Linked DNA regions of Homo sapiens: region 2 is linked to region 1. The links come from fine-mapping of genetic effects on gene expression. A gene starts in region 1. The other region holds a variant in brackets. All regions are shown on one strand. Distances are from middle to middle.

Evidence for each region. PIP is the estimated chance that this variant, and not a neighbour inherited with it, causes the effect.
Region 2: its variant is the best candidate, but not a certain one, in a credible set for the expression of PLEKHG4B in lung (GTEx, PIP 0.79).

The regions. Positions count from the first base shown.
Region 1 is chr5:90,040-94,422 of GRCh38, forward strand. It overlaps PLEKHG4B (pleckstrin homology and RhoGEF domain containing G4B), which reads left to right and starts at 2,129. Exons shown (of 20, transcript NM_052909.5): 1 at 2,129-2,237. The coding sequence starts at 2,193. RefSeq lists an enhancer at 329-1,168.
Region 2 is chr5:178,478-182,860 of GRCh38, forward strand. It overlaps PLEKHG4B (pleckstrin homology and RhoGEF domain containing G4B), which reads left to right. Exons shown (of 20, transcript NM_052909.5): 19 at 3,037-3,198; 20 at 3,527-4,383. The coding sequence ends at 3,846. Among named protein-coding and RNA genes, the nearest start is that of LRRC14B, 11 kb to the right of the region's middle. RefSeq lists an enhancer at 3,284-3,784. The variant T/C (reference allele first, on the strand shown) is at 1,760.

The DNA of each region.
Region 1 (4,383 bases):
GAACCCAACCTCATCACTTTCACCAAGATCAGGCATCCACTTCCTGATCTCCTGCCTCCGCCTGCTGAGCTCTCTGAAATGTAAGTCGGAACAGGTCGCTTCCTTTCTAACTCCATCCCCTCTGAGTGTCCCCACTTTCGCTGTGTTTGTGAGCTCACCAGATCTGCCCCCCCCCCACCCCATAGGGCCTTTGCACAGGTGGCTCCTTTGCCTTCAAGTCCCAGGTAGCTTCCTCTCAGTGTCTGCTCAGCCTGCCCCATCAGAGAGGCCTTCCTTGACCGGATTTGTGTTCTGTCCACTGGTTTATTTCCCTCCACTGGAATGTCAGCTTCCCAGAGATGGGGGCTGTGCTGTGACTACCAGTAGTAGTTGATCAGTAAGTACTTTTTGAATAAACCAAGCTATGTTAATAGTCCATGTTTTGGAAAAACTCCCTAGAAAACATCCCTAATTCCATGGATCCATGGCAAAGAAAGAACCAGATCTGTAGAAACGGGCTGGAGAAGCTCACAAAGGACTCCTGGGCTGAGAAAGCCCCACACGGTCCCACTTTCTTTCTGTATAGTGGAGGTGTGGCAGGGGTGAGCTCCTACCACGGGCCCCAAAGTCTCCAGTAAGAGTGAGATTCCGGGCTGCACCCTGACCAGGCGCCACTGGGTCACTGCTGACCGTCCTGGAGGTGCTGAACAGGGATGAAGCCGTTTATTCTGGAGGCATGCCAGCATTCTTGGGTCCTGCTCTGGCAGGAGCTGTGGGGCCACACAGGCTTAGAAAGGTGGCTCCCATCCTGGACAGCACCGTGGGCAGTACTGTCACGAGGACGGGCTGGGAGGAGGGTGTGGCAGGGGTGTTGGGGGCCTCAGGTAGGGGCCAGCACAGAGGGACACCCAGATACCCAGCACAGAGGGCAGGAACAGGTCAGCTCCCTGCCTGGGCTCAGGGATGGGGCTGGAGGTTCTAGGAAGCAGAGCAAGTAAGCAGGACAGGGAACAGTGAGAACACAGGTGTAGATGGAGAATCAAGGCGGGGCGCAGCCAGGGATTCCAGGGAGGAGTAGACAGAAACTCAAGGGAGGGAGGCCTCGAGGGGATCCCAGGGAGGTGTGGACAGGGATTCTAGGAAGGAGTAGACAGAGACTCAAGGAGGCCTCGACGGAGATCCCAGGGAGACTGACTGCCTGCTGCATAGGAGGGAGGCTCCCAGCTGTGTCCCTGAGCTGCATAGGAGGGAGGCTCCCAGCTGTGTCCCTGAGCTTCATCCACTCTGTAACCTGTGACAAAACGGAGCATTATCTGTCAATGAGCACATCTGTGCCGCAGTTTTTGGGATGGTGCCAGGGTAGGGGTGAGGGACAAGTTGAGGGGACAGGTTGAGGTGGGGTCCCTGTGAGGCCCTCCTGGACGGAGTGGACCTTATGAGACACTCCCTAGCTGAATTCCCAGCAGGAAGCTGGTGCCCAGAGCACCCTGGACTAACGGGCGGGAGAGGGACTTTGTTTTGGGAGGCTCTTTGTAGATCAAGGCATTAAAATTGCACCTTTGGGGAAAGCATGTTCCAGAGCACCAGACACCCCGAGGCACCCTGAGTTGTGGGGGGGGAGGGTGATGGAATTTGGGGCCCTCGCTGAAGCCCTTCATTATCCAAGCCAGGCGCGGGGTGGCACGTAGTTCCCACAGCGGCCCCTGGACGGAGGAGAGGGCCTGGGCCGTCCACACCTGCAGAAATCTGGAGCTGGTCCGCCTAGACCAGGGGAAATCGGGGTCCCGTCCGGGTACACTGGCAGAACTCAGGGGTCAGATCCTCTGCCCTGGAGCATTCAGATTTGTGCCTCTACGTTATGGAAACCAGGGGCCCGTCCGGGTGCAACGTGGCATCCACAAAATGGCAGGTCCCCGAGCTCCGGGCTCCGAGAGAACAAAAGCAGAAGCCACTGCCGCCCGCGCTCGGGGAGGAGCCGCCCAGGTGGGCGCGTCCGGGGCTAGGCGGGAGCTGCGCAGCCGGGTCCAGGGGAGACGCCCCGCCCCGGCCGGACCCTCGGAGCCTCCTAGGGGAGACCCCGGCCCCGCCCCTCTCTCGCCCGGATCGGGCGGGGCCCCGGGAACGCGCGCGGCGAAGGCGGCCTCGGCCCAGTGCACAGCGGGACCAGGCAGAGTTCGGGGAAAGCGTCGGAGTTCGGGAGACCAGGGTCCAGCATGGGTTTCAGCACAGCAGACGGCGGGGGCGGCCCAGGCGCCCGGGTAAGAGGGGGCACGGGGACTGCGGCGGGTGGGGGCGCGAGCGGACGCGGGAGTAGGGGCGGGTGGGGGCGCGGGGGTAGGGGCGGGGTGGGGGGGGGCGCCGGAGTAGGGGCGGGTGGGGGCGCGGGGGTAGGGGTGGGGTGGGGGCGCGAGCGGACGCGGGAGTAGGGGCGGGTGGGGGCGCCGGGGTAGGGGCGGGTGGGGGCGCGGGGGTAGGGGCGGGGTGAAGGCGCGAGCATCAAGGCGGGCGGGCGCGGGGACTGGGGTGGGAGGGGGCGCGGGTACCCAGACGTGCTGGGGGTCCTGGCGTGGGTCCTGGGACCTGCCGGCGGCTGCTGCGGGAACGGGAGGGAGCTTCTTCAGGCACCCTTTTCCTTGTAACCTCGTGAATACTCGGGAGAAGAAATAACGCTTTCTGGACAGATTTGCCCTCTCGGTGCCTGAAGGGGAGCCAGGGGAGGGGAGTCTGAAATCTCATCGCCAAAACTGAGAGTTGCTAAGTTACTCTTCAGCTCAAACCGGTGGGACAGAACAGTGATCTGTGGTGGCCCGGAACAAAGAGAATTTTTACTTAAAAATACCAAGATTGACTTTTGTGTTGGAGTGCTAGTTGATTTGAGTAAGAAACATTTGCTAGTAAAACAAGACAGTTATTTCAGCTTTGGTGAAAGAGTGATAAAGCTGTTTTCAGGTTTTTCATGTGAGTTGCAAAAAGTATATTGGGTTTGCCTTTCCCTGTTTCGTGTGAAACTAAAGAGTGGTTGAGGTGAGGTAATTACACTCTACTCCTGTTACCCAACAGCACTTTTGCCTAAAAAGTTTAGTTGGTACGTCTAGGTGTCTAATTAAGAATTGAAACATATAATTTAAAAATTAAGTTAAATGTCATTGAAACGGTGCATAATTGATACTTTTGACTGAGCCTTAGGCAGCTGGGTGGGTCCTGAATCAAGATTCCTGGGAAGGTAGGTTTCTCAGCTTCCCGAAGAGATTTAATGTAAATCTTCATGTAATGTGGACAAAGGTGAGTTTTAGCTTTCAATTTCCCTGAGCCTGCCTCGAATTCACAAAATTCCAGGCTCTCTGGGTCAGAAGGAACTTCGGAGATCTTGAGGAGGCCGCCGTCTCCGAGATTCTGTGATATATTCAGCATTTCCATTCCCTATGGGATCACAACCCACTGGGAAGCAGTGTTTGGTGACCCCCCCACCGAGAAGTGGGTTCATATTCCTGCTTCTGAGGAGATACCAGGTTTTTATTTCACTGTGCGGCATCCGGTGTGCAAATGCAGATGTGGCCTGGGCTGGGAGCACACAGGCTTGACCCCGCAGGCAGCCGGTAGGCCAGGGTGTCAGGTCCCCTGTGTTAGCCGGAGCCTTCTCATCTTTTATCCTGGTAGAGGGGCGCTGCTGGCCTTTCTGGGGGGTGGGTCTAGTCTGAAATCACCTTTGTGGGATCTGTGGCACTGGCTAGCTCTCAAGCTGGCCGGTGGTCTCAAAGGAATTCTTCGTTACTTGTAAAGTAGCCCAGAAATGCTGGGCTGAGGAAGTAATTTGCCCCAAGGCTCCCTGAGACCTGTATTCACAGGTTGTATCATCCAGCCAAACACAGGAGGCCCCAGATCCCCAGATCTCAGAGATTTTTGTGGGAAATCATCTGAGTCTAGCTCAGACACCACTGCCTCCCTCCTTCCAAACAGAATGAGTTTGTCCTCTCTTTGCGTTTGAACAAAAGTCAGGCCATCTAGAGCCTCCTAACTCTCACCTCAGACCTCCAAGGTGGGGCTACTCATTCTATAGATAGTGGAAATTGAGGCTTCAACACCTGCCCAGCATCTCACTGCCAAGAAGCAGCAAAGCTAGGTTTGAGCCAAACTCAAGGTCCTGGTTCTCCTTCTCCCCTCAAGGGCCCTGAAATTTTGGTGCCTCTCCTGGCTGATACAGCATCAGTGCTTCTGTGCCCTGCGGCAGCGGTTCTGTTCCCCACCTGGGTCGCCCCACACCTGGCAGGGCAGGTGCTCCCTGTGGACAGGCCAGTGCTGTTGGGTCCAGCCAAGACCTCAGGTGCCACGTGTGTGGTGAGGGGCTCCCTTCTTCCACCATGCTGTTGAAGACAGAGCCTCAGACTTTGTCTGACCCGAGACCCC
Region 2 (4,383 bases), 88 kb after region 1:
TTTTGAAAATTGTGTTTTTCAGATTTTTTATATCCTTATTGGCTTTTTGGCTGCTTATCACTTACTAGGAAAATTATGTGAAAATCTCCCATGATGATGTAAATTTGAATTTGTCTATTTTTCTTTTTGTTCTGTCAATTTTTGCTTCCTATGTTTTGAAGCTAAATTAGTAGGTGCATAGTAATATAGAATTGCTATATCTTCCTAGAAACAGAGCCTCTTTGATCATAATGAAATGCATCTCTTTATTTTTAGCAGTGCCTTTTGCCTTAGATCTACAGTTGTCCCTCTATGTCCATGGGGATGCGGTCCAGGACTCCCCCACGGATACCCAAATCTGCAGTTGTTCAAGTCGCTGATATAAAATGGAACAGTAGTTGCATAGAACCTACACACATGCTCCTATATACTTTAAATCATCTGTAGATTACTTATAATCCATAGTACAATGAAAATGCTTATAAATAGCTGTTATATTGGTTTTTTATTTGTATTTTTAACTTTTATTGTTAATTGCTTTTTGTTCAAATATTTTTGATCCTTGGTGGAACCTGTGGATATGGAACCCACTGATACAGAAGGCCAACTGTGCTTCCTATTAATATAGCTATTCCAGTTTCCTTTTGCAAAGTTAGTGTTTACACGACACATACTTCTCCATCTTCTTACTTGGAACTTTTGGTGTTCTTATATTTGAGATACGTCTCTTGTAAAAGGCATATGTTTGATTTCACTTTTATCTTTTTATCTAGTTTGACTAACCTTGTCTTTAAATTGGAGTAGTGTGTTTACATTTAATGTAATTTGGGTATAAATTGAGTATCTTACTCTTTGTTTTCTACCTATTTGGTGAGAACAGGGGAGTGAGAGAGGAGGGGAAGGCCATGGAGGGTGATTGATGGGCAGGTCCTTGCACACACCCTCTGGAAGACAGGCACACTGAGGCACTGTCCCACATGCTGAGGGACCCCCACATACTGAAGGACCTGGGTGTTTTTCTGCCAACTCCTGTCCCTCATTGTTGAGGCTCCTCCTGGTGTGTGAACCACCTGATGCTTCTGTCCCATCCACAGGAAGGCGGGGAACACCCCCCAGGCAGAGAGACCTGGGCAGCCACCGCCATGAATGAGAGCTCTCTGGCTGTCCCCAGGCCAGCTATGCTCTGACGGCCAAGCGTGGTGGTCCTTGCCTGTGTCCGAGCGTGGGGTTAGTTCTGGAACATTTGATCACTTCTCCTGCTCCACTCTCTGCACTCCACCTGGAACTCCCGATTACACGTATGACCCTTTTACATGTTCCTATGTTTCTCGTGTGATTTCTATGTTTCGATCACGTCTTCCCTGCTTCTGTGTGTTTTCCACTCATCTTAAAGTTCATTGATCTGCTTTGCTATTAAACTCACTTATTTCATTATTGGTTTATTTTTGATATGTAGGTTTGTGTTTGATTCCTTTTATTTGATGGATTTCGGTTTCCTTTTGAGACTCTCTATCCTGTGATCTACTTCCTGCCACATTAATCCTGGTTACCTCCACGGCCTGTCTGAGACGTCCAAACCTTTATCTCGTGGATGTTTAATTATCTGGGGTTTTCCTCAGCCTTTCCTCATTTTGTCCTTTCTCTGGGTGTGCCTGATAATTTTTTTATTAAGTAGTAGATATGATGTAGGAAATGTGTAAGGATCATTTGAGGCCCGGGCTGGTGTCTTCACCTCCAGAGGATTTATTTTTGTTGGAAGAGCAGGGGTGGTTCATCTGAA[T/C]GCACTCCGGGGAGGGACTGCATGAAGTCCGCCTCAGACCTTTGGGCAGCTGATCCAGCTTCCGTTTGTCCCACTCCTGGCAAAGTCCATGCTCCCTTTTCAGGTCCCCACTGAATGTCTGGGAGTTTCCCAGGCCCTTCCTCCCAGTGGTCCTTGAATTCCAGATTTTATCTCCCCACCCTGTGCGTTTTCAGAAGCTCTCAGCCTCCAAGCTCCAAGATGAGCTCTCTGCTCATCGGCCACCAGCAGTGCCCTGAGGGGTAGAAAGGTGTCAAGTTTCCAGTGGCCTGTGAACGCCACATCTGCCCAGGACATTGGCCCTTTGAGGCTAGATTGCCTTGTCACCTCCAGAAAACCTTCAAAAAGTGTGTCCAGCTTTTCTGGTTGTTCTTGGCCGTGGGCTTGGATGTAAGGTACACGAGCAAACCCACTGCAGCCAGAGCAGGAAGCTGTCCCGCGTCCACGTGCACAGCTCTAACCCTAAAATAGCCTTCGGAGTTAGGGGAAGAGCAATGTCCTGTTCACTGCCCAACTCCAAGCCCTGTGTCCCGGGCAGCCACACTCAGCCCTTTCCCTGCAAGAGGGGACACTCGCTCTTGATAAACCAGCTTTGCACATTACCTATTGGTGAAGATGATCAGTAACTCTGTGACTGTAGCACACACACACCGCACTTCTTCCCGTTCTCCCAAGACCTCTGGAAAACAATTCTTACTATAATATTCTTCAGCATAGGCATTAGGACTACATACATGCAATTATGTTTTCTGTCCTCATACATTTTCCTTACAATTAATATCATCTTTTTTCTTTGCTTAATTTGACCAAGAATAAGTTCATTCCCAAACTCTCACCTTATGCTTAGCTCTCCTCTCAATATTCAAACTCCTAGAAACCTGTTGTTTTGTCTTTCCCATGGACACGGCTCCCAGGCCTCTGACCCCTGCTCTAATTGGGACCTGCTGTGTGGCCCTCCCTTGCTTACCAGCTGACAGGAACCCTTCCTCACCCCCAGGTTGGACACGCCGTTTCCAAGGCCTCATGGCTTCCTTTTTCTTGGTTACTGCCTCGGGCTCCCTGGGAGAGATCTCTTTGGTGCCGAAAACCGGAATGGGAAGCCTCAGCACCCTGGCCCCCCATGCCCCTCGTGGGGCAGGGTGGGTATACCCTGTACACCCTCCTGGTTTGGGCTGAGGGCATTAGGGGTACCGGGCGTCTTTGGGGTGGCATTAGCCCCCGAGTTGCTTTGGAAACTGTCATACTTTCTTCTGTCTTAGAACTCAGAATCCAAGAAATGGCATCCATGGGTATAGGCAACCAGCCATTCATGGATGTCAAGCCCAGAGACCGGACCCCTGACTGTGCAGTGATAAGCGACCGGGCTCCCAAATGTGCAGTGATGAGCGACCGAGTCCCCGACAGCATCGTCAAGGGCACAGGTACGGTGGCTCGGTCCCGCCCTCACTCACCCTGCAGAGGGCACTGGGCCTGTCATCAAGGGCATGGGTACGGTGGCATCGGCCCCACCCTCACTCGCCCACAGAGTGCACCAGGCCTGTCGTCAAGGACACGGGTACGGTGGCCTCGGCCCCGCCCTCACTCATCCTGCAGAGGGCACTGGGCCAGTGGCCGACATGGTGGGTTGGATGGGCATGACTGCAGTGGCAAAGCCTGGTCGGCCTTTCAGACGGCTCTGATCCCATTCCCGAACCTGGGCTGCACTTCTGGAGCGGAAGCCAGCCTGACGTGCTTTCTGTCCCTTTCCAGAGTCACAAATGAGAGGGTCCACAGCGGTGTCCTCCTCTGACCACGCCGCCCCCTTCAAGCGACCACACTCCACCATCTCAGACAGCAGCACCTCCTCTTCTAGCAGCCAGTCCTCCTCCATCCTGGGGTCGCTGGGCCTGCTTGTGTCCTCCAGCCCAGCCCACCCGGGCCTATGGAGCCCTGCCCACAGCCCCTGGTCATCTGATATCAGAGCCTGCGTCGAGGAAGATGAGCCAGAGCCAGAACTAGAGACGGGCACCCAGGCTGCAGTGTGTGAGGGGGCTCCTGCTGTGCTGCTGAGCCGCACACGCCAGGCCTGATGACTGTCAGGGTGGCAGTGCCCATCATGTGGCTAGAACAATACAGAGGGAGCAGCACGCCAGGCCTGATGACTCTGGGGGTGGCGGTGCCCATCGCGTGGCTGGAACGATCCAGAGGGAATAGCACAGCAGGTGTCCAGGTATTTCCCAGGATTTTAGACATTCCCTAACATTTTCAAACAAATTTATAATTTTGTCTTATTTAAAAAACAAACCTTCCACTTCCACCCAAGACAACAGCATAGGAAACAGACCTAAAACAAGACAAAAAAAGACTAAACATGAAACAAAAGATGTCAAGACACAAGACATTTGGCAACAAAGGACCGCGATCCCTGAGAGACAGGAAAACGGGAGGTGAGCCCGGTGATGGCCTCAGACCTCCCTCCGCCTTGAGAGTTTGCAGGCCTCAGTGCAGGGAGGGGCCCAGGAAGAGCCCAGCAGCCTCCGTGAGTTGAAGAGACCAAGTCAGCAGGAGTTGGCAGGTCAGAGTGCCAGAGAGAGATGCCTGCATGGGGAAAGACTCACCAGATCAGC